4 linked regions of the Homo sapiens genome follow. The protein of the gene in region 1 purifies or fractionates together with the protein of each later gene. This does not show direct contact. Each region holds a gene or a part of one and is shown on either strand. Other genes may lie near its edges. The genes, in order: GDF3, NPTX1, PPM1A and IDH3B.

What was found.
Region 2: the proteins of GDF3 (region 1) and NPTX1 purify together in Homo sapiens (affinity purification with mass spectrometry; 2 studies listed by BioGRID and IntAct, with this or other methods). This does not show direct contact.
Region 3: the proteins of GDF3 (region 1) and PPM1A purify together in Homo sapiens (affinity purification with mass spectrometry; 3 studies listed by BioGRID and IntAct, with this or other methods). This does not show direct contact.
Region 4: the proteins of GDF3 (region 1) and IDH3B purify together in Homo sapiens (affinity purification with mass spectrometry; 3 studies listed by BioGRID and IntAct, with this or other methods). This does not show direct contact.

The regions. Positions count from the first base shown.
Region 1 is NC_000012.12:7,689,212-7,692,870, reverse strand, and holds the end of GDF3 (growth/differentiation factor 3 preproprotein), read left to right. Parts: intron 1-2,166; coding exon 2,167-2,993; 3' UTR 2,994-3,087; downstream 3,088-3,659.
Region 2 is NC_000017.11:80,473,580-80,480,685, forward strand, and holds the start of NPTX1 (neuronal pentraxin-1 precursor), read right to left. Parts: upstream 3,029-7,106; 5' UTR 2,868-3,028; coding exon 2,424-2,867; intron 2,140-2,423; coding exon 1,932-2,139; intron 1-1,931. UniProt on the Homo sapiens protein: May be involved in mediating uptake of synaptic material during synapse remodeling or in mediating the synaptic clustering of AMPA glutamate receptors at a subset of excitatory synapses.
Region 3 is NC_000014.9:60,280,086-60,287,252, forward strand, and holds part of PPM1A (protein phosphatase 1A), read left to right. Parts: intron 1-2,598; coding exon of another isoform or gene 2,599-2,618; coding exon 2,619-3,452; intron 3,453-5,538; coding exon 5,539-5,656; coding exon of another isoform or gene 5,657-5,679; exon of another isoform or gene 5,680-7,167. UniProt on the Homo sapiens protein: Enzyme with a broad specificity. Negatively regulates TGF-beta signaling through dephosphorylating SMAD2 and SMAD3, resulting in their dissociation from SMAD4, nuclear export of the SMADs and termination of the TGF-beta-mediated signaling.
Region 4 is NC_000020.11:2,657,862-2,661,350, reverse strand, and holds the end of IDH3B (isocitrate dehydrogenase [NAD] subunit beta, mitochondrial isoform a precursor), read left to right. Parts: intron 1-381; coding exon 382-442; intron 443-521; coding exon 522-654; intron 655-760; coding exon 761-894; intron 895-985; coding exon 986-1,088; intron 1,089-1,174; coding exon 1,175-1,321; intron 1,322-1,557; coding exon 1,558-1,652; intron 1,653-1,765; coding exon 1,766-1,826; intron 1,827-2,038; coding exon of another isoform or gene 2,039-2,098; exon of another isoform or gene 2,099-2,336; intron 2,337-2,513; coding exon 2,514-2,600; 3' UTR 2,601-2,828; coding exon of another isoform or gene 2,829-2,909; 3' UTR 2,910-2,956; downstream 2,957-3,489. Other genes in the region: NOP56 (nucleolar protein 56), read right to left, coding at 3,057-3,422. UniProt on the Homo sapiens protein: Plays a structural role to facilitate the assembly and ensure the full activity of the enzyme catalyzing the decarboxylation of isocitrate (ICT) into alpha-ketoglutarate.

The sequences.
Region 1 (3,659 bases):
AGGAGTTCTCGATAAGCCTAGGCAACATAGAGAGACCCTATCTCTACAAAAACTTAAAAAAAAAATTGGCTGGGTGTGGTGGCTTTTGCCTGTAATCCCAACACTTTGGGAGGCCGAGGTGGGCGGATCACCTGAGGTCAGGAGTTTGAGACCAGCCTGGCCAACATGGTGAAACCCCGTCTCTACTAAAAATACAATTAGCCAGACGTGGTGTGCACCTGTAATCCCAGCTACTCCAGAGGCTGATTCAGGAGAATTGCTTGAACCCGAGAGACGGAGGTTGCAGTGAGCTGAGATCAAGCCAGTGCACTCCAGCCTGGGCAACAGAGCAGGACTCCGTCTCAGAAAAAAAAAAAAAAAATTAAAGCCAATCTGAATGATTGGACTTTGGCCAACAACACCTGACTGTCTAGGTTGCTATTTTTTTTTTTTTTTTAACTGAGACGGAGTTTTGCTCTTGTTGCCCAGGCTGGAGTACAATGGTGTGATATCGGCTCACCACAACCTCTGCCTCCCAAATTCAAGTGATGCTCCTGCCTCAGCCTCCCGAGTAGCTGGGATTACAGGCATGTGCCACCCTGCCCGGCTAATTTTTTTGTATTTTTAGCAGAGACAGGTTTTCTCCATGTTGGTCAGTCTGGTCTCCTGACCTCAGGTTATCTGCCCGCCTTGGCCTCCCAAAGTGCTGGGATCACTGGTGTGAGCCACCATGTCCCGGCCCAGTCTATTGACTCTTTCTCAGAATAATGGTTTAAGTGCCTAAAGTAAAATATTTAGGATTTCAAAAGAAACCAATTAAATATTGAAATACATTTTAAAATTTTTTTAAAACTTTTTTTATTTTTTATTTATTTTTTATTTTTTGAGGCAGAGTCTTGCTCTGTCGCCCAGGCTGGAGTGCAGTGGCGTGATCTTGGCTCACTGCAAGCTCCGCCTCCCGGGTTCACACCATTCTCCTGCCTCAACCTCCTGAGTAGCTGGAACTACAGGCACCCTCCACCTTGCCCGGCTAATTTTTTGTATTTTTAGTAGAGATGGGGTTTTACCGTGTTAGCCAGGATGGTCTCGATCTCCTCATCTCGTGATCCGCCCGCCTCGGCCTCCCAAAGTGCTGGGATTACAGGCATGAGCCACCACGCCTGGCTTTTAAAATATTTTAAAGACAAATGTATATATAGTAATATATATAATGCTTTATTCATGTAATACATAACAAGATTTAGGGAGGTGACTATACCTATAACTACCATAAATTTCGGCATAGTGTTAGCATAAGTGTTTTGTTTTTTTTTTTCTTTTTCTTTTCTTTTATTTATTTATTTATTTTGTAGAGATGGGGTTTCACTATGTTGCCCAGGATGGTCTCAAACTCCTGGCCTCAAGCAAATCTCCCATCTCAGCCTCCCAACGTGCTGGGATTACAGGCATGAGCCACCTTGCCTGGACTCCATAAATATTTTAAGTTATTTGCAACAACTAAACGTATGAACACACCTATGATTTTATTGATAACAATGTCATAGGCCCTGATGATATTACTGGGATTTGTTACCTATATTCATAATGAAGGAAATGCTAAATTTCATTTAGAGTTTAGTGGAAATAATGATGTAATTATTTTTCCCATCTAAGTTCGTGCACCCTCTACATTTCATCCAGGAATCTCTGGGAACCTGTGGATGTGAAGATAAGAACCTCTGGCTTTCTTTTTTTTTTTTTTTGAGACGGAGTCTTGCTCTGTCACCCAGGCTGGAGTGCAATGGCGCGATCTCGGCTCACTGCAAGCTCCGCCTCCCGGGTTCACGCCATTCTCCTGCCTCAGCCTCCTGAGTAGCTGGGACTACAGGCGCCCGCCACCACGCCTGGCTAATTTTTGTATTTTTAGTAGAGACGGGGTTTCACCATGTTAGCCAGGATAGTCTCGATCTCCTGACCTCGTGATCCGCCCGCCTCGGCCTCCCAAAGTGCTGGGATTACAGGCGTGAGCCGCCGCACCTGGGGACCCTCTGGCTTTCAGGAATAGAGAAACAAACCCTCCCAAATGACAGGGCTTGTGTCTTTCCCTGCCCTTATATTGTATATGTGGGTGTCTGGCATTTCTATTATATAGGTGGATATGAAGTAAATACATCATTATGACTCTGACATGTCTCTTTTCCCATCTAGGTTTCTTTCTTTACCCAAAGAAAATTTCCCAAGCTTCCTCCTGCCTGCAGAAGCTCCTCTACTTTAACCTGTCTGCCATCAAAGAAAGGGAACAGTTGACATTGGCCCAGCTGGGCCTGGACTTGGGGCCCAATTCTTACTATAACCTGGGACCAGAGCTGGAACTGGCTCTGTTCCTGGTTCAGGAGCCTCATGTGTGGGGCCAGACCACCCCTAAGCCAGGTAAAATGTTTGTGTTGCGGTCAGTCCCATGGCCACAAGGTGCTGTTCACTTCAACCTGCTGGATGTAGCTAAGGATTGGAATGACAACCCCCGGAAAAATTTCGGGTTATTCCTGGAGATACTGGTCAAAGAAGATAGAGACTCAGGGGTGAATTTTCAGCCTGAAGACACCTGTGCCAGACTAAGATGCTCCCTTCATGCTTCCCTGCTGGTGGTGACTCTCAACCCTGATCAGTGCCACCCTTCTCGGAAAAGGAGAGCAGCCATCCCTGTCCCCAAGCTTTCTTGTAAGAACCTCTGCCACCGTCACCAGCTATTCATTAACTTCCGGGACCTGGGTTGGCACAAGTGGATCATTGCCCCCAAGGGGTTCATGGCAAATTACTGCCATGGAGAGTGTCCCTTCTCACTGACCATCTCTCTCAACAGCTCCAATTATGCTTTCATGCAAGCCCTGATGCATGCCGTTGACCCAGAGATCCCCCAGGCTGTGTGTATCCCCACCAAGCTGTCTCCCATTTCCATGCTCTACCAGGACAATAATGACAATGTCATTCTACGACATTATGAAGACATGGTAGTCGATGAATGTGGGTGTGGGTAGGATGTCAGAAATGGGAATAGAAGGAGTGTTCTTAGGGTAAATCTTTTAATAAAACTACCTATCTGGTTTATGACCACTTAGATCGAAATGTCAATATACCTGTGTTTATAATTTGTCTTCCTGAAAAACCCACCATAATTAACAATGCCCATACTTGCATGCGTGTGCACACACACACATCCTGGAGCCCTAATAATCATAGTTAATTTCTGTTCTAACATACTCATTATGCATATGACAGTATGGACACTGGCATTTACTGATGGCCGATTATGGGCAGGCATTATCCTACGTGTTACTTTACAAACATTTCACTGTCTTTGAGGGAAGTATTGTTATTTATGCTTTACAGACAAAGAAGCTGAGGTTTAGAGAAGCTAACAAATTTTCCTAAGGTCAGCAGCTCTCCCTGGCTCTCCCTGGCAAATCTGATATGCTAACAGCATTACATTAAAAATATTTGAGGCCGGGTGTGGTGGCTCACGCCTGTAATCCCAGCACTTTGAGAGGCTGAGGTGGGTGGATTATGAGGTCAGAAGATCGAGACCAGATTGACCAACATGGCGAAACCCCGACTCTACTAAAATACAAAAAATTAGCCGGGCATGGTGGTGCATGCCTGTAGTCCTAGCTACTTGGGAGGCTGAGGCACGGGAATCGCTTGAA
Region 2 (7,106 bases), on another chromosome or scaffold:
GTAGCTTCCCAGGTCAAGTACTTTGCCCCAAGGCACAGGGCCAGTCTGTAAAGAGCTGACCCAAGCTCTTCATGCTCCAGGTCTGGCCTGCTGTCACGCCCATGTGCTGGCATCCTTGGGGAGATGGGGGTGGGGGGCAGTGCCTGGTGGGCTGCTGCATCAACACTGGGCTGCGTGGTGGGCATGAGAAGGGAATGGGGACAGCCGCCAAGCCAAGTCAACCCAAGGAGCAGGGGTGGCTGCAGAGGAGGAACGAGGCTAGCTACCCTGAGAGTAACCGACCTGATTCCAGGATGGGGCGGGGCTCAGAGCCTCTCCTCGCTCAATCCCAGGCTCTGCTCCTGCCTCTCCCCACCCGACAGCCAGGCCCTGGTGCCCACACACTTCCCTCCAGGCCAGATGTGCCTCTGACCCACCAATGCCTCTTGGGTGTGAGGCTGGGCAGCTCCCCACCTCCAAGGCCCTTCCTTGGAGCAGGGACTCTGCCTGGAGCTCTGCTGAGAGGGCAGGGCAGCAAGGAGCTGGGAGTACTCTGGGCGCCAGGGCTCCCCAAGGTGACTGCTCTAGGATGCCGCCACACTCTCAGGTGAGTAAGTGTCCTCACAGCTCAGGTTCCAGGCCTGGTGGCCTCCCTTTCCACAAGGCCCACCTTCTCCCTCCCCACCGGCCACTTCTCCCGTAAGCGCCAACCCCCATAGCCCATCTATATACTGTGGCACCCTGGGTATGGTGTGACTGACTCCAGGCAAAACATTCCTGGCCAGCAATGGGCACAGTAGCAGGCCCAGAGCCCAGGAACACACACCCCTTGGTCAATCCCTGGGTGAGCAGCCGTGGTCCTGCCAGGAAGCCCAGAAAGAAACCAGTTCCCCAGGCCAAAAATTATTTCTAGAAGACATCCTGCCCGGTCAGCAACCACCCCCTCCTCTAAACCAACTGGCAGGGAGCAGAGCAGGGCAGGCCCCCTCAGTGCAGCACCCCAGCGGCTACCCCAACCCATTGAGGCCTGCAGTGGGGGATAGGGAGGGGCCCAGCCCCTGGCCTTTCTCCGGGTGTTTTTCATTCCCCAATCTCCGCTCCTTCCCTCTCCCTCCCTCCTGAGGTCCTTCCTTCTGATCTGTTTTTCAGTTACATAACAAGCCTTAAGATGGCACTGTTTAAATCTGTCCGGCACATTTTGCGGTCTGAGCAGGGTCACGTGGCCTTGCTCCGCACCGGGCACCCCCCCCCCTCCCCTTTTACAACCTTGTTTGATTTCTGCGACTTCAAGACAGAGCCTCCAGCGCTCATCCAGGCGCCCTGGGTGATAGACTGGCTGGCCTGAGTTGGTGACTGAGAAACCTCAGGGATTTGAAAGATGCCAGGACTTGGGTCACTCAGAAAAGAAAACCTCAGGGTAGGGGTTCAGGACAGAAGTGGGGAGGAGCTGGAGATCCTGAGAGGACACCGGGGGCATGGCAGCCGGGAAGAAACCTGCTTAACAGCCTCAGCGGCCCGGGGAACGAGAGCGCCCAGCCCCAGCCTGCACCCAGCTGTACGCTGAGGCTGGGGACCAGGGAGAGACAGGCTTTCTTAAGCAGGGAGGGTTTGAGCCAGCGACAGCCACTGTGCAAAGTTACTGAGGATTAAACAAATCAGACTTGAAAAATCCAGCGAGTGTGTGAGTGTGTCTGGATGGGGGAGGGGGCACTATGCAATCCCCTTTCCCAGAGACAGCCCCAGCCCAAGGCACCCAGCCCTGATAGAAACACCGACTAGAAGCCCAGAACCTGGGAAGGGGTGCGGGGAATGAGAAAGCGGTGCAGGGGTTGGGGGTAGCGGAGCGGCTTGAGGCTTGCACAGTGCAGAGCTGGGCTGTTAGGGATCGGGACCGAGGCAGGGTCGGGCAAGCAGGTGCAGGCAGGCAGCACGGCTCCCCCTGGCCCCAGTACCTTTCTCGAGCTCGCTGATCCGCTGGTGCAGGGAGGTCAGGGCGGTCTCGATCTTGACCCTCTCCTCGGTGTCGTTCCTGGGGCCCCCCTTGCCCTCCTCCAGGGTGTTCACCCGGGACAGCACCTGCCTCTCCAGCTCATCGATCTTGCTCTGCAGCAGATCCTTGAGGCTGTTGGTCTGGCTGGAGGAATTGAGGCGGCTGTACTGCTGCGGGGTGCAAGGGCGGGGGAAACCACACCGTTAGGCGAGGCGCGGGGACCGTGCTGGAAGGCCCGCGGCGCGGTCCCCTCTGGGCGACTGCGGGGGCGGCCTGGCAGGGAGCTGGGGCGAGTGGCCGCCGCGGGGCCTCGCAGGCGCGGGGAGGCACCGGCCGGGCACCCGCGCGGCTGAGGCGAGGGCGGGGGATGCCTGGCCGGGTAGGGAACGGGGTGGGGGAGGGCAGAGGGGCGAGCGAGCCGGAGGGGGAACCGGAGCCGAGGGCGCGCGCGGACCTCGAGGTTCTCCAGGCGGGTTTTGAGCGATTGCAAAGTTTGCCCGAGTTGGCTGAGCGTCTCGGCGGCCGGTGTCCGGGACAGGTCGCCCATGGTGTTCTTGCCCGAGCCGGGCTGCTTGCGGCCGCCGCCCGCCCGGGCCTCGCCGGCTCCGGGGTCCAGCGTGCTCTGGCTCTCGCAGCGGCCCAGCTTGGCGGTCAGCTCGCGGATGGTCTCCTTCTGGCTCAGGATGGTCTCCTTCTGCTGCAGCACCGTCTCGCGGAGCTGCAGCACGCTGCTCCGGAGCTCCTCGGCGCCGCCGGCGGCCACGGACGCGGCGCACATGTCGGCGTCCACGGGCACCGAGGTGCAGATGAAGCGCGTCGGCCCGAAATCCTGGGCCCCGGCGCCCAGGAGGCAGAGGGCGAGCAGCGCACAGGTGCGCGCGGCGCGGCCGGCCGGCATGGCTGCGGGCACCGGGCGCTCCGGGCCCGGCTCGGCTCGGCTGGGGCTCGGCTCCGGCTGGGACCCGGCTCGGGCTGTGGCTCCGCGAGCGGCCCGCGCTCTGGGCGCCGCGCTCTTCGGCCGCGCGGTCCACACCGCCGCGCTATCAGGCCCCCACTGCCGCCTGCGCTGCGGAGCCCGCGCCTTTTATGCCGCCGCGGGAGGGGCCTCGAGCCGCCGACGTCAGCGGGGGAGGAATCCCGCTTTAATTGTCCGCGGCCCGGGCCCGCGGCGCGGCGGGGGTCTCACGAGCGCGCCACCGGGGCTGCCTCCGCTCGCGTCCCCCCCGCCCTTCTGGGAGCTGCCGCGGCCCCCTCCTCCCCCGCCCCCGCCTGGGCCGGCGCTGCTGCCCCGAAGGCTCCGAGAGCTCAGGGGGAAGGAAGTCGGGCTCCGGCCCCGGACTCGAGGATGGACCACCTGCGTGGTGTCCCCGAACCTCCGACGGGGCTCCAGGCGGGCGGGAAACCACCGCGTCCGGGAGATAGAATTCGGTTCGGCCCTCCTGGCTGCACTGAACACCCTTGGGCCGGGGTCGTTTGGAGCCGGGCTGGGTGCCCAAGGACCCAGGTCGTCAACACCCGAGTGCCCGGTGGTCAACGGCTCGGAGTGGGGCCTCGCGGCGCCACTAAGTCCAGAGCGGGGGTCACCGGGCCGCCCCGCGTTTCTTAGATGTCCGTGTGCTATTGAGAAGCCGCCGGGCAGCCTGGGTACAGGGACTTCCCACGGGTCGGGGCCCCCGGCGCCTCCCCTCCCCCAGCTCCCGGGCTCTGTGGACCCGGCCCCGTCCCCGGGGGACTGTCAGTCCCCACCCCGTGCGGGCGGGGCGCTGGGGACTTCTCGGAGGCAGACCTAGCTGATCGAGCCTTTCCTGTCCGCGGCGCCGGCCCGATCGCGGGCAGGCGGCGTCGCCGGGGCTGGACGTTCGCAGCGGCGCTTCGGAAGGGGGCCCCGCGGGAGCAGCCGCCCGCGTCTCCAGCAGCTTCCCCTTGCCAGGCGCCGCGCGCGCCCGGTATCCCCGGGTGTCCACCTGTGCGTGGGGGGCTGTTTCCCGTCTGTCCAGCCGCGCCCACTTCTCAGGCCCAAAGGCCAGCAGGAAGGGTCCCGGAGGTGGCTGGGGGCGTCCACCTGAGAAGCTCCGCTCTCGCTCAGACACCCCACCCGGCACCCGCGCACTCGCGCCTTCATCTGGACCGCGGGGCTCGGCTCCCGAGATCGCGGTCCGGGTTCCGGCGCCGGGCTGGGGGCTCAGGACCAGGGCTGGCGCAGCCGCCCCGCCCCGCCCCGCCCCGGGGCTATCAGAGCGGTCAAAGCCTCGGAAATCCCTCCGTCCACGCTCCCGTGGTACAGAGAAGGAAACTGAGGCTCCGAGACTGCGGGGCCGGGCTACAGCCGTGGCCCCCCGACCCCTCCCCGCCGCCCCCGGCTTCTCTGGTCTCTGCGTTCTGCAGCCTTTCCCTGCGCGCAGCCGGGGGCTGGGGGTCCCCAGCCAGCAGGGACCCACGGGCAGTCCCGGGTGCCGGGATCGGGCGTCCGCCCCTCGGGCGGGAGCAGAGGCCGGCTCGATGGAGACCTTTTTGAGAAATGGCGGCCTCTACCCGCCCCCCAGCCCCCGAGCGCCCGCCGTCTGCGTTCAGCATCTCAGCTTTTAAGCCTCCCTGAGCCGGGGCTGCGTTCTCGTTGTCTCCTTCGGCCGCCGCTTCCTGGCGCCAGAGGGACCCCGCGGCCCGCACGGGCCTGTCCTCGGCTCCGCTCGGAGGGTGTGCGGGTTCCCGCTCCGCTGGCCCCGCTTGCCCACCACGGCGCGCCCAAACCCACGCGGCCCGCGGCCCCTTGCGTGCTCTGCCGACCCCGGGCCGCAGGAGGGGTTAGCCTCGCCGGTCCCCACGCGGGGTCTGCGCCGGCAGCGCCACGGGCTGGAACGCGCCTCGGGAGAAATTACCCGCGCGGGGTCGCGGCGTCTTCTGCCCCAACTCCCGTAGGGAGCCGCTAGGCGGGTGCCCTCCTGGCCCCAGCGCTTTGGCCTCGCCGCCCTCCCGCACGCGTCCAGTGGGGAGGCCGCGCCCGTCAGGCCTGGAGCCGGACCGTGCCCAGCCGAGAGCGCGCGGGCGCGGGAGAGGAGCCCTGCCCTGCCCAGGGCAGGCTGTTTAGACGGGGCGGGAACCCTTAGCCTGGCCCCGCGTCTCTATCCCCAGCAGCCGTGGAGCCTTCCTAGCCGCCCAAGGCCAGGGACCCTGCCTGGCTTTTCCTCCAGGGCAGCAGATCTCAGCGGCCTGGCACCTCGGCACAGAGGAGCGTGTCCCCCTTCCGCAGAGGAAGGGAGTGGACGGCGTCAGAAAGGGAGGGGAGCCTGGGGCGGTGTCTGGGGCTAGCGGGACCTCTGGGCACTGTGGGGCCCCAGGAGAGGAGACCCTCGGGTCCAGCCTGCAACTGTTGTGCAGGAGGCGCTGGGCGGGACACCTGCAGGCGCTGCACACACACGCGAGGGCCACCATGCCGCGTTTCTCCTTCACAAGACCCTGGGCAAGCGGAGGGTCGTATTTAGGATTCCCTCGGCCTCCCCAGTGTTCTGAAAGTATCTGAGAGGGAGGGAGCAGGAAAACGAAGGGCCGCCCTGCCCAAACTCATCGGGGTGTCTGGTTACTAGGTCGGAAGAGGGGGGATGGTGTTGTGAACAGCCAGTGATCCCGGCCCTGCCTGAGTCCCACACCCCAGATGCAGCTGGGGTGAGGGAGGCGATCCCGTAATATTCCCAGCCGCGTACATTTGTGGCTGCCTGTGACACGACCTCACTCATTGGGAAACCATGCACACTAGCACACTGTTATTTTATTTTTGAGACAGGGTCTTGCTCTGTTGCCTAGGCTGGAGTGCGGTGGCGCAATCACAGCTAACTGCAGCCTCGACCTCTTGGGCTCAAGCGATGCTTCCTGCACCACCACACTTCAGCTAATTTTTTTTGTTTTTTTCGTAGAGATGGTTGAACTCCTCTTGCCTTGGTCTTGGGACTACAGGTGCAAGCCACAGCGCCCGGCCTAGCACAATAGTACTTATTATACTACTCCCACCATAACGGTGCAATAGATGTGAATAAAACTCAAAAGCATAGACAAGGCTGGGCGCAGTGGCTCACGCCTGTAATCCCAGCACTTTGGAAGGCCAAGCTGGATCACATGAGGTCAGGAGTTTGAGACCAGCCTGGCCAACATGGTGAAACCCCGTCTCTACCAAAAATACAAAAATTAACCAGGTGTGGTGGCACACATCTGTAATCCCAGCTACTTGAGAGGCTGAGGCAGGAGAATCACCTGAACCTGGGAGGCAGAGGTTGCAGTGAGCCGAGATCGAACCACTGCACTCCAGCCTGGATGACAGAGCAATACTGTGTCTCAAAAAAAAAAAAGATAGACAATAGTTCAATGTAAGAAAATAATTAGAAAGTGATGAGTTTGTAGTATTTATTGCCCATTTAAAATATAATTTATTTAATTATAAGTTTACTTAGTTTAAAATGTAATAGTGGCTGTGTTTAACCATCGACCTGTGAAATTCCTGCAAATGCCACCATCAGTGGGTACTGGCCGGCTCAGCTCACTCCTGGTGGAAGGGCACGGAGAGGCCTGCAGAGGTTAGTTGGTAGTGGGAGGGGGAGTGTAGAGAAGGCAAAGGGGGCAGGTGTCCAGGAGAGGCCCTGGTTAGTGGCCAGTATGGAGAGGGTGGCCAGGCATAAGAAGACTAGACAGACCGGGTGCAGGGGCTCACGCCTTGAATCCCAGCACTTTGGGAGGCCGAGGTGGGTGGATCTCTTGAGCCCAGGAGTTTGACACCAGCCTGGACAACATGGCAAAATCTCATCTCTACAAAAATACAAAAATTAGCCAGGCATGGTGGGGTGCACCTGCAGTCCCAACTACTCTGGGGACTGAAGTGGGAGGATTGTTTGAGCTCGAGAGGTTGACGCTGCAGTGAGCCGAGACCACGTCACTGCACTCCAGCCTGGGCAACACAGCAAGATCCTGTCTCAAAAAAAAAAATTTTAAAAAAAGAAGGCTAGCCGGGTAGGTTGGGAGGTATTAAGAGGACCTCAGTGCCCATCAAGAGTCTTTACTCAGTGGACGGTGGGAGCTCATGCAGGGGTGTGCCTAAGCCTGGTGGGTGCCTGTGCCCCTTGCTCATCCTGCCGTATCTCCCCGGCCTCTCATC
Region 3 (7,167 bases), on another chromosome or scaffold:
AACCTCTGCCTCCAGGTTCAAGCCATTCTTCTGCCTCAGCCTCCCAAGTAGCCGGGATTACGGGCATGCGCCACCATGCCTGGCTAATTTTTGTATTTTTAGTAGAGACGGGGTTTCACCATATTGGCCAGGCTGGTCTAGAACTCCTGACCTCATGATCCACCCACCTCGGCCTCCTAAAGTGCTGGGATTACAGGCGTGAGCCACCACACCTGGCTGCCTTCTTATATGCTTATACAGGAACAGATGGAGAAAGAGATTCGGAAAGGTTCAGTAGTCACACTATTACTAAGTAGTAGAGCCAGAATTTAAACCCACATTGGTCTAATTTCATAACTTATTTTCTTTAGTACTTCATGCTATTGGTGAATTCGTAGAGGAAGGAAGTTTGTCATTACTATTCTTTTCTGTTGGTTTGTCTCTTAAATGTGTTTAATTTTTTGAGTTTCACTCACGTCTCTTTTTTTCTTTCCTTTTCTCAAGGTAGTGGAGTCTTTCCTCTGTAAAACTTCACCTTGTTGTTTCTAGTCTAGGATAGTGGTCTTGTAACCTAGGATAGTGGTCTTGGTTACTGCAATTTTGGTTGATTATTTCTTGTTGGCCCTTAATGTGCCCCCATCTTCTGCCTTAGGCATTCCATCTAATCTTTTCCAGCAGTTTGCAACCTTACTGTGCCTCAGAATCACATATGAAAATTTAAAAATCATAGATACCTAGGTTCCAACCCTACCCTGGAAATTCTGATTTGGAAATATTTATTTTTCAAAAAGTCCACAGATAATTCTGTTGCACAGCCATGGTAGAGACCCATTTTCTTAGGGGTTAATGATGCTTTAGAGTCACGCAGACTTGAATCAGAGCCCTGATTCCTTTAAACTTATTAGTTGAGTGATCTTGGCCAAGTTCTTTAATCTTGGCTAAGGTTCTTCATCTATAAATTGGAGATAATATTATTATCTACCTTAGAGAGTTGTTGAAGAGATTAAATGAAGTAATGCTTGTAAAACACTTACCAGAGGGACTTAGAATACTTCTTAAACATTGCCTGCTAATAAGGTGTCATTATTACGTTATCCTTTATCCAATCAAAATACTCACCTTTGCAGTGTGTATCAACTTGATGTCAGAAAAATAATCTGATAAATATCACCATAAGGGATGGATGATAGCTAGTTTTCATTACTTACCTTTCGTTAGTTGAACTGTACTAGGAGGCAGAGGAGTAGGCAGATGGTTTTATCACGCCAATCAGCCAGTCTTTTCTGCCTATGTATCAGTTTGGACCTATAAGGAAAATGAAGGGGAAAACAAATGTTTTTCTTTCCTTCCTAGGAGGATTTTCTTCTTGCCCTTTTTCTCCCAGTTTCCTCTCTGAGCTGAGTATCATTAGCATCATCAATACCCTAGTTTCAGAGCTGCGTAGTGATTTACCTAGATACTTTTCTCCACCATTATTCCCTACTACCTAACTCCTCTTCACCTCCATTAAATCTCTGTTCATCATGCTATCCTTCTTTTGGATTGCCTTTAGTTCAGTTGTGACTTACTTGATTACTTGAACCCAGGTGTCTACATTTCTAAGCTATTGTTCAAGTAAGGGCCAAGGTAAATTCTAACCAGCTGTCTCTTTGCCTTGTGTGGGCCCATTCTAGACCAGCGGGTGTTAACTTTTGAGTATTGGAAAAGGATTAGATTAGCTGAGCCTTCAGGCTTGTCAGCAGGGCTGTCACTAGACCCTTTGATCTTCTTTATATACCTAATGGTCATAGAGTATAATAATAATGGTACATGTTATTACTATATGATTAATAGATTACTAGTAGTAATTTTGTTATATATGTATACAGTACACTTCGTTATGTATATATATAATTGCTTGCAACTTGAAATTTGAGGCTACAACATTTACAGTAATTTAATAACTTAACTGACTTTATCAAAAACTGAAAAACCTCATGGAAAAGGTAGAATGTAAGGTAGACTTAAAAGGATAGGTATACTTTTTTCTATAAATAGGATGAGGCAAGAGTTTCCAGTTAAGGAAACTGACATGAGCAAAGGCTTGAAGGAGCATGCAAATTTGGAGCATTGTGAGTAGATTATTTTTTAGTTTTTCAGAGTTCATGCAGTGGGAATAAAACTAGGGAGTTTGGAATCAAGCTTGAAAATTCCTGAATGTTCAACCAAGATATATTTGAGTTAGTAGATTTTTTGGGTATGTCATGAATTCGTTTGGCTTTTCTTAATTGATATACATACAACTTAGTCCTGAGCTTACACATGTTCATTGTATCATTAAACATTTAGCCTGGTTGGTTTAAGTTGATGGCCACTGCCAGGTCTCCTTTCTGCCTTCTCCCCTTTATCCCAATGCTTTAGTTTTTTTCTGCCTTTTTGTCTGTTGTGATCTGTGCTTCATCAGGCTTTCCCCCAGTTCCTCCTTGTTAATCTCCAGATTCCAAGTCAGCAACACAATGAATGTCTGCTTATCGCGAGTTGTGAATTCCCGCATATCTCTTTCACTTATTAAAAAGATTGTTTGGTACATATTTTGTTTATAAGACAGTTATTGACTTTCCTGTTTCTCTTCCTTTGCAGACCTAGAGGATCAAGACATAATGGGAGCATTTTTAGACAAGCCAAAGATGGAAAAGCATAATGCCCAGGGGCAGGGTAATGGGTTGCGATATGGGCTAAGCAGCATGCAAGGCTGGCGTGTTGAAATGGAGGATGCACATACGGCTGTGATCGGTTTGCCAAGTGGACTTGAATCGTGGTCATTCTTTGCTGTGTATGATGGGCATGCTGGTTCTCAGGTTGCCAAATACTGCTGTGAGCATTTGTTAGATCACATCACCAATAACCAGGATTTTAAAGGGTCTGCAGGAGCACCTTCTGTGGAAAATGTAAAGAATGGAATCAGAACAGGTTTTCTGGAGATTGATGAACACATGAGAGTTATGTCAGAGAAGAAACATGGTGCAGATAGAAGTGGGTCAACAGCTGTAGGTGTCTTAATTTCTCCCCAACATACTTATTTCATTAACTGTGGAGACTCAAGAGGTTTACTTTGTAGGAACAGGAAAGTTCATTTCTTCACACAAGATCACAAACCAAGTAATCCGCTGGAGAAAGAACGAATTCAGAATGCAGGTGGCTCTGTAATGATTCAGCGTGTGAATGGCTCTCTGGCTGTATCGAGGGCCCTTGGGGATTTTGATTACAAATGTGTCCATGGAAAAGGTCCTACTGAGCAGCTTGTCTCACCAGAGCCTGAAGTCCATGATATTGAAAGATCTGAAGAAGATGATCAGTTCATTATCCTTGCATGTGATGGTATCTGGGATGTTATGGGAAATGAAGAGCTCTGTGATTTTGTAAGATCCAGACTTGAAGTCACTGATGACCTTGAGAAAGTTTGCAATGAAGTAGTCGACACCTGTTTGTATAAGGTAGCTAGACTTTTTTTAAAAACATAAAATGATTTTATGCCATATTAATCACTACTCTAGTATTTAATCATCTTAGAATCTGTAATTCTGAAACCAGTTTTTGGCACAACTGTAGGATACTGTTCACCAATTATGAAAATATATCATAGGACCACTATGTAGAAATAAATTACCCAATTACCATCTCTGCAAGAGTTATAAGCTGAATGTTTAGTCTTACTACTTGAGCTTTGTAATAATGTGGAAGATTATCAAAGGTAAAAAGATTTTATCAGAGTGCATGTTTTGAAAGAAAGAGGGTGGGGAGGGTTAGGCCTCAGTGTCTATAAATGAAAAGCATTTTAGAGTTTTAATATTTGACCATGTGATATCTCAGTACATTTATGATATCCTAATCCTTTGAAACTAAGGTTTAATGGTCTGTAGCACTTGAAAGAGGAATGTAGTGATCATTAGACGTGATGTAATAGAAATAGCCTTGTACATGGAGTCAGAAGAACTTGCTCTGAGACTGTGTATGGTTTTAGGTAAGCTATTTAAACTCTAATCAGTTTTTTTCATCATAAAAAGGATAAGACATTATTATCTTGTCTCATGGCGTTGTCAGGAGGATCAAATGGGATAATATACACAGGTGAGCTAGCTCAGCCCCTTTATTTTACAGATGAGGAAGCTGAAGCCAGAGAAGGTTCTACAAACTTAAGAGTCAGACAGACCTGAGACCAAGGCTTACCTCTATTAGTTTTGTACTCTACATTCCTGAACGAATTGTTCAACCTCTCTCAGCTTTAAAATGGAGATAATAGTATCTTATAAGACTGTTGCCGGGCGCGGTGGCTCACGCCTGTAATCCCAGCACTTTGGGAGGCCGAGGTGGGCGGATCACGAGGTCAGGAGATCGAGACCATCCTGGCTAACACAGTGAAACCCCGTCTCTACTAAAAAACACAAAAAATTAGCCGGGTGTGGTGGCGGGCGCCTGTAGTCCCAGCTACGCGGGAGGCTGAGGCAGGAGAATGGCGTGAACCCGGGAGGCGGAGCTTGCAGTGAGCCGAGATCGCGCCACTGCACTCCAGCCTGGGCGACAGAGCGAGACTCCGTCTCAAAAAAAAAAAAAAAGACTGTTGAGGAATTAATGAGCGTATGTATATATATATATATGTGTGTGTGTATATATATATATACATATATATATATATAATGCCTAGTTTAGCATATAATACATGCTACACCCTTTCCTACAGATATTATAAATGACGTGTACAGGGTTTTATACATTGCTAACAGCATTAAGACTAGAAAATCAAGGCCCTTGACTTGGGTTCAGTGTTCTTTCTGCCACACTCTGTTCTGTTTTGTCAATAATGCTTATTAACTTATTCTTTGATGTTTTTTTAAACAAATGTTGACTTTTTAAAATTCTTCTGAGGGTATATATTTGATACTCAAATATTTAATTATAGCATTTGAATACTTAGATGTCTTTAAAAATGAATGTAGTTCCTAAAAGTTGTCAGTTTTTAAAATTAATACAAGTTAAAAGCTGGTTTATAAACCTTAGGTAGTTTTACCTCTTATTTCATATTTCTACTTATGAAGCGAATGTATTAGCCCCACAATTTATAATTTATTTTAAAGGTAATTTTATCAGGTACATATAACTACAGGTCAAATCCTATTGTAAACAATGCCACTAAAATTTTCTGTCATGTTGTATGGAAGGAGTGTGTGTACACATGTATATTTGTATTAGGTATCACTTCAAATTAAGTCACCAGTAAATGTTTAGAAATAGTATTGTTTTATAGAATTATAAAAAATTATTATTACAGTGAGATTAACCTGTAATGTTTCTCTCCTGTCTTTTGGAGTATTGGTTATACTGTATTCTCTCTATACTGTTCGGGGGAGGGGGAGTCATTGCACACACACACGCACGCATGCGTGCACATATGTATTTTTTTCTCCCTGAAAGTAACATTTTCACTAGAACAAGTATAACTGTAATTGGCACAGCTGTAAAGGTTCTCAAGGCTTTGAAGAGCAAAAAGAAAACTAAAATATTCTCAAATTTTTTTCTTCCCAGGGAAGTCGAGACAACATGAGTGTGATTTTGATCTGTTTTCCAAATGCACCCAAAGTATCGCCAGAAGCAGTGAAGAAGGAGGCAGAGTTGGACAAGTACCTGGAATGCAGAGTAGAAGGTGGATCATTTAACAAAAAATAAGTAGCTTTATTAAAGAAAAATCTTCAACACAATCAAACTTTAACATTTTAGCTTTTAGATTTTTATGTGTCTTTGACAGCTAGTGTCTAGTGTATGAAAGTGGAAAAGGACATTTCTGTAGTAGCTGTTAAGATGTATGCAGTTGTCCTATCACAGTTATATTAGAAATAACAACTAGTGTGGAAAGTAACCCACATTCTGTTCAGGATACTTTTGTTTTAAAAGGCTAAAATGTTTGTGTGCTTTAAAATTCTTAATGAATTCACTGGCATGAGTAATTTTATGCCGGGAAAATCTGATTTGTGGTCTATTTAATTACAAAGAGATTGTGATGGTGATAATTTGAATACCATCTTTCTATGAAAAGCTGTGTATATTAATTTTAATCTCTAGGGCCTTTTTTCAATAACTTGAAAATCACAGCCTCATCATTAGCAACTTTATATACACAGCTTTAAAAAATTTGCTTTAAACTGTTTCAGAGCTTCTTCCCTAAGCCATAAACTGTCTCACCTAAACAAGATAGACCTCAATAAAAGACATAATATTTCTCCACCTGGCAGAAAAGTAACTGCCAAGTAAGATTAAGAAATAAGTTGAGCATTTCTGGAGTATATTTCTCATAATTCTGCAGAGACTTCCAGTTTATTGCATATATGCAGTAAAGTGTATATATTATGCAGTTTCTCTAAGTGGAAAAACTTGACATGACTTTAATAGTGTTAAAACATGAAAATGCTGGTGAGCTGAGGTAGAAAAAAAACAAGAAAAAAATTTTAAAAATAGCGTTAAAATGCATTTTAGGCTCCTAATGTCGTTAATTTGCACGTTAAAGACCTCTAATCGCATGCAAGCATTGACCTACCACACCTACATCCCACTGTGCCTGCATTATTGAAATTACTACTCACTTTAATTTTTTTTCCCCTTTTTACTGTTTGATACCAATCATAATCAGTCTGATACTAGAATCATGATTGGTTTTGTTCTTTAGTACTGTCTAGAGCTACTATTTTGTTTTTATTGCTGTCCGCCACTTGATAGTCATACATCTAGTATGTGTTTGTACTATTTAGTATTGCATTCATTGGACGTACTATTCAACGAATTTGTCTCCTTACTGTTACCAAGGGTCTTGGAATTTTTATATTTTAAATTAATCATTCAATATAAGTTATTTATAGGTATAGTACAATTTTAAAATATTTAGAATGCTACAATCATTGGTTCAAACTATTGATTCATGGGAAAATTTAAATTCATAAGAATAATATGTATAGGGATAAGTTGATATTTAATGTATTGGCACTTTAACTTGGGCAGACATGTTTTCTTATTGGTTTAAAGAAGTAATAAGTATTTTAATATTTTTACTATGAAATGGGATCCAATTTTAGAAATGAATTGCTACTTTTCTCTTTAGTGTGTACACTTTAAGTTTTAGATGGAATTATGAAATATTCACTTTACGTTATTTTGTTACAATAA
Region 4 (3,489 bases), on another chromosome or scaffold:
GTGGCACATGCCTGTAATCCCAGCTACTGGGGAGGCTGAGGCAGGAGAATTGCTTGAACCTGGGAGGCAGAGGTTGCAGTGAGCCCAGGTCGTGCCACTGCACTCCAGCCTGGGCGACAGAGTGAGACCCTGTGTCTCTCACACACGCACACACACACACACACACACACACAGAAAATGCAATAGATGAAATGTTTCTGGCTTTAACTACATTATTCTCTTTTGTCCCTTGCCCCCAGAGACAATTTAAAAGTTTACTGATGTGGGAATGGGAGATGGGAGTCTGGGTTACATGATGTTCCTAAGGGGGTTAGACACTGGTCTGAGTTCCCTTGGGCTTGGCCTGTGGCTGACACTCCTTTTCCCACTTTGTTTTCACAGGAAAGATTCATACCCCGATGGAGTATAAGGGGGAGCTAGCCTCCTATGATATGCGGCTGAGGTAGGTGGTCTGGGTGGGGTGAATGGTTGAGAGGTGCCAGGGCACCAGGAGCAGAGCTGATGGCCCTGCCCACCCTCAGGCGTAAGTTGGACTTATTTGCCAACGTAGTCCATGTGAAGTCACTTCCTGGGTATATGACTCGGCACAACAATCTAGACCTGGTGATCATTCGAGAGCAGACAGAAGGGGAGTACAGCTCTCTGGAACATGAGGTGAGGCCCCAGAAACTGGGGGAGGGCAAGGATGAAGATGGGAGAGAGGTGGAGCTCCTTGTTTCCCTTCCCAGTGTCACCTAGCTGCTGCTTTCTTCTTACCCAGAGTGCAAGGGGTGTGATTGAGTGTTTGAAGATTGTCACACGAGCCAAGTCTCAGCGGATTGCAAAGTTCGCCTTTGACTATGCCACCAAGAAGGGGCGGGGCAAGGTCACTGCTGTCCACAAGGCCAACATCATGTGAGGGGCATGGCTTTGTGTAGGATGGGTTCCTGGGAAGGTAGCCCCTGTACTTTCTTGGCTGATTCTGTCCCCTTTGGCCCATGGACAGGAAACTTGGGGATGGGTTGTTCCTGCAGTGCTGTGAGGAAGTTGCTGAACTGTACCCCAAAATCAAATTTGAGACAATGATCATAGACAACTGCTGCATGCAGGTGAGGCCTCCCCACATCTCTACTCATGGGGCGGAGGAGGAGGGTGGGGAGTGGAATTTACTTCATGCCTGCATCTCACCCTCTAGCTGGTGCAGAATCCTTACCAGTTTGATGTGCTTGTGATGCCCAATCTCTATGGGAACATTATTGACAATCTGGCTGCTGGCCTGGTTGGGGGAGCTGGTGTGGTCCCTGGTGAGAGCTATAGTGCAGAATACGCAGTCTTTGAGACGGTGAGGCTGCTTTCTCCCTCGGCCCTTCCTCTGACCTCAAGTCCGCCATTCCTCTCCCATCCCAATATCTCCACTTCCTAAGTGATCTTGGCCTGTTCTTCCCCCACGCTGCCCACCATGCCTCTTTTCAGTGACCCTGGCCTGAGCTCCCCCTCCCATAATGTCCTTTTCCAACCTAAGCCTCTGCATACCCCTCCTGCCTCCTCCCAGTGTCTAGCCTGCCCCTCTCTCCACAGGGTGCCCGGCACCCATTTGCCCAGGCAGTGGGCAGGAATATAGCCAATCCCACGGCCATGCTGCTGTCGGCTTCCAACATGCTGCGGCATCTTAAGTAGGTCATGGGAGGCTGTCGGCAGAGGTTGGGTGTCGTGAGGAGGAGCAGGTGGGGAAATTAGCGGGAGGTGTCTTGGGGGAGTCACAGTTTCTTCCTGTCCATATCCACAGTCTTGAGTATCACTCCAGCATGATCGCAGATGCGGTGAAGAAGGTGATCAAAGTTGGCAAGGTGAGTTGAGAAGAGTAGTGCTGGCTTCAGGATTTAGAGTAGTTCTGGTGTCAGCACCTCGGCACTACCCTCTGGGGAACCTGAATGGGGGTCTCCTTTCCCCCCAGGTCCCCAGAACATCTGCTCCCTGACATCCCTGCATCCCTCTCAGGGCTGTTCTTCATCTCCCTTCTCTTGGCTGTTTCATCCTCTTGATCTCTTTTGCCTCTTAGATCCCATCTGCTGTTCCCTCTTTCCTGCTCCATCCACTGCCCTTTTCATGGGCCATCTGAATGCAGAACTTGCAGCTCTCCTTGGGGGTGGAACAGCAAGGGATACAGGCAGGCTGAAGCATCAGCTTCACCTTCACGCCCCATCTCCTTTTCGCTGTGATTCTTTCCTTCCACCTGGTCTTGTCTCTATTTCTTCCAAGGAAGGTAGCCACATCCTGCCTCTGATCTGCGTTTCCCATCATCTTTGCCTGCTCAGCCTCCTGTCCTGCCCTGGCTGCAGCACAGCTAATAGTGGCTTAAGAGGAGTGGCAGGTCCATGTGCTTCCCATCCTGGCTCCTCCTTCCATTCCTGTGCATTGCCTTTTTTCTGGCTGTCACGCATTCTTGGCTTCCATTTCCTCAATCACATTGCCCTACCTCCCTTCATGGGCTCTCTTTTCTCCCTCCCCACGGCTGTTGCCGGTGGTGGCTGTAGGTGCGGACTCGAGACATGGGCGGCTACAGCACCACAACCGACTTCATCAAGTCTGTCATCGGTCACCTGCAGACTAAAGGGAGCTAGAGCCCTTTATTTCTTCCAACCTTGCAAGGACCACACTCCCCATACCCTTCAGTGCAGTGTACCAGGGAAGAGACCTTGTGCCTCTAAGCAGTGGACCATGGTCACCTTGCTGGGTAGAGCCTAGGTTGTCCTTGGGCCGGCTTCCTTAGGGGACAGACTGTTGGGTGGTGATGGGGATTGTTAGGATGGAGCCCAGGCCACATGGATGATGATGATTCTCCCCCACAGGTTCGAACCTCTGACATGGGTGGCTATGCTACTTGCCATGACTTCACTGAGGCTGTCATTGCTGCCTTGCCCCACCCATAGGCCCTGTCCATACCCATGTAAGGTGTTCAATAAAGAACATGAACCAACTCTTGTGAATTTGTTTTTATTGGGGAACACGGCACAGGGTGGGAAATGTCACCTTGGGCTATGGTATGCCCCACCTCCCAGAGAATGTCCATTTGCATTCTAATCTTCCTGGGATGCTTTATGGAACTTTTTCTTCTTCTTGGAGCTGCTCTTGCCAACCGCCTCTTCAGGCCCACTGCTGACCGGCTCCTCTTTGGAGAATTTCCTCTTTTTCTTGGAGCCACTTCTGTGGCCTGCCTCCTCAGGGTCATTAACTGTTTCCTCCTTGGGTGTAGACTTCTTCCTCTTGGGAATACTGGTGCTGCCAGCGGTCTCTTCAAGATCGCTACTCATCAACTCCTCCTTGGAAAAAGATTTCTTTTTCTTGGGTTTGGAGAAAGAGATAGATGGGTCTTCCATTCCATTCTCCTGAGGAACCTCCTGGGGCTTTTGCTTTTTCTTCTTTTTGGGTTTTTCACTCATCTCCTAAAGGGAAGGACAGGGGAACAGGCTGTGAGAACAGTGCTCATTACATCTTCAGCAATTAAGTAGC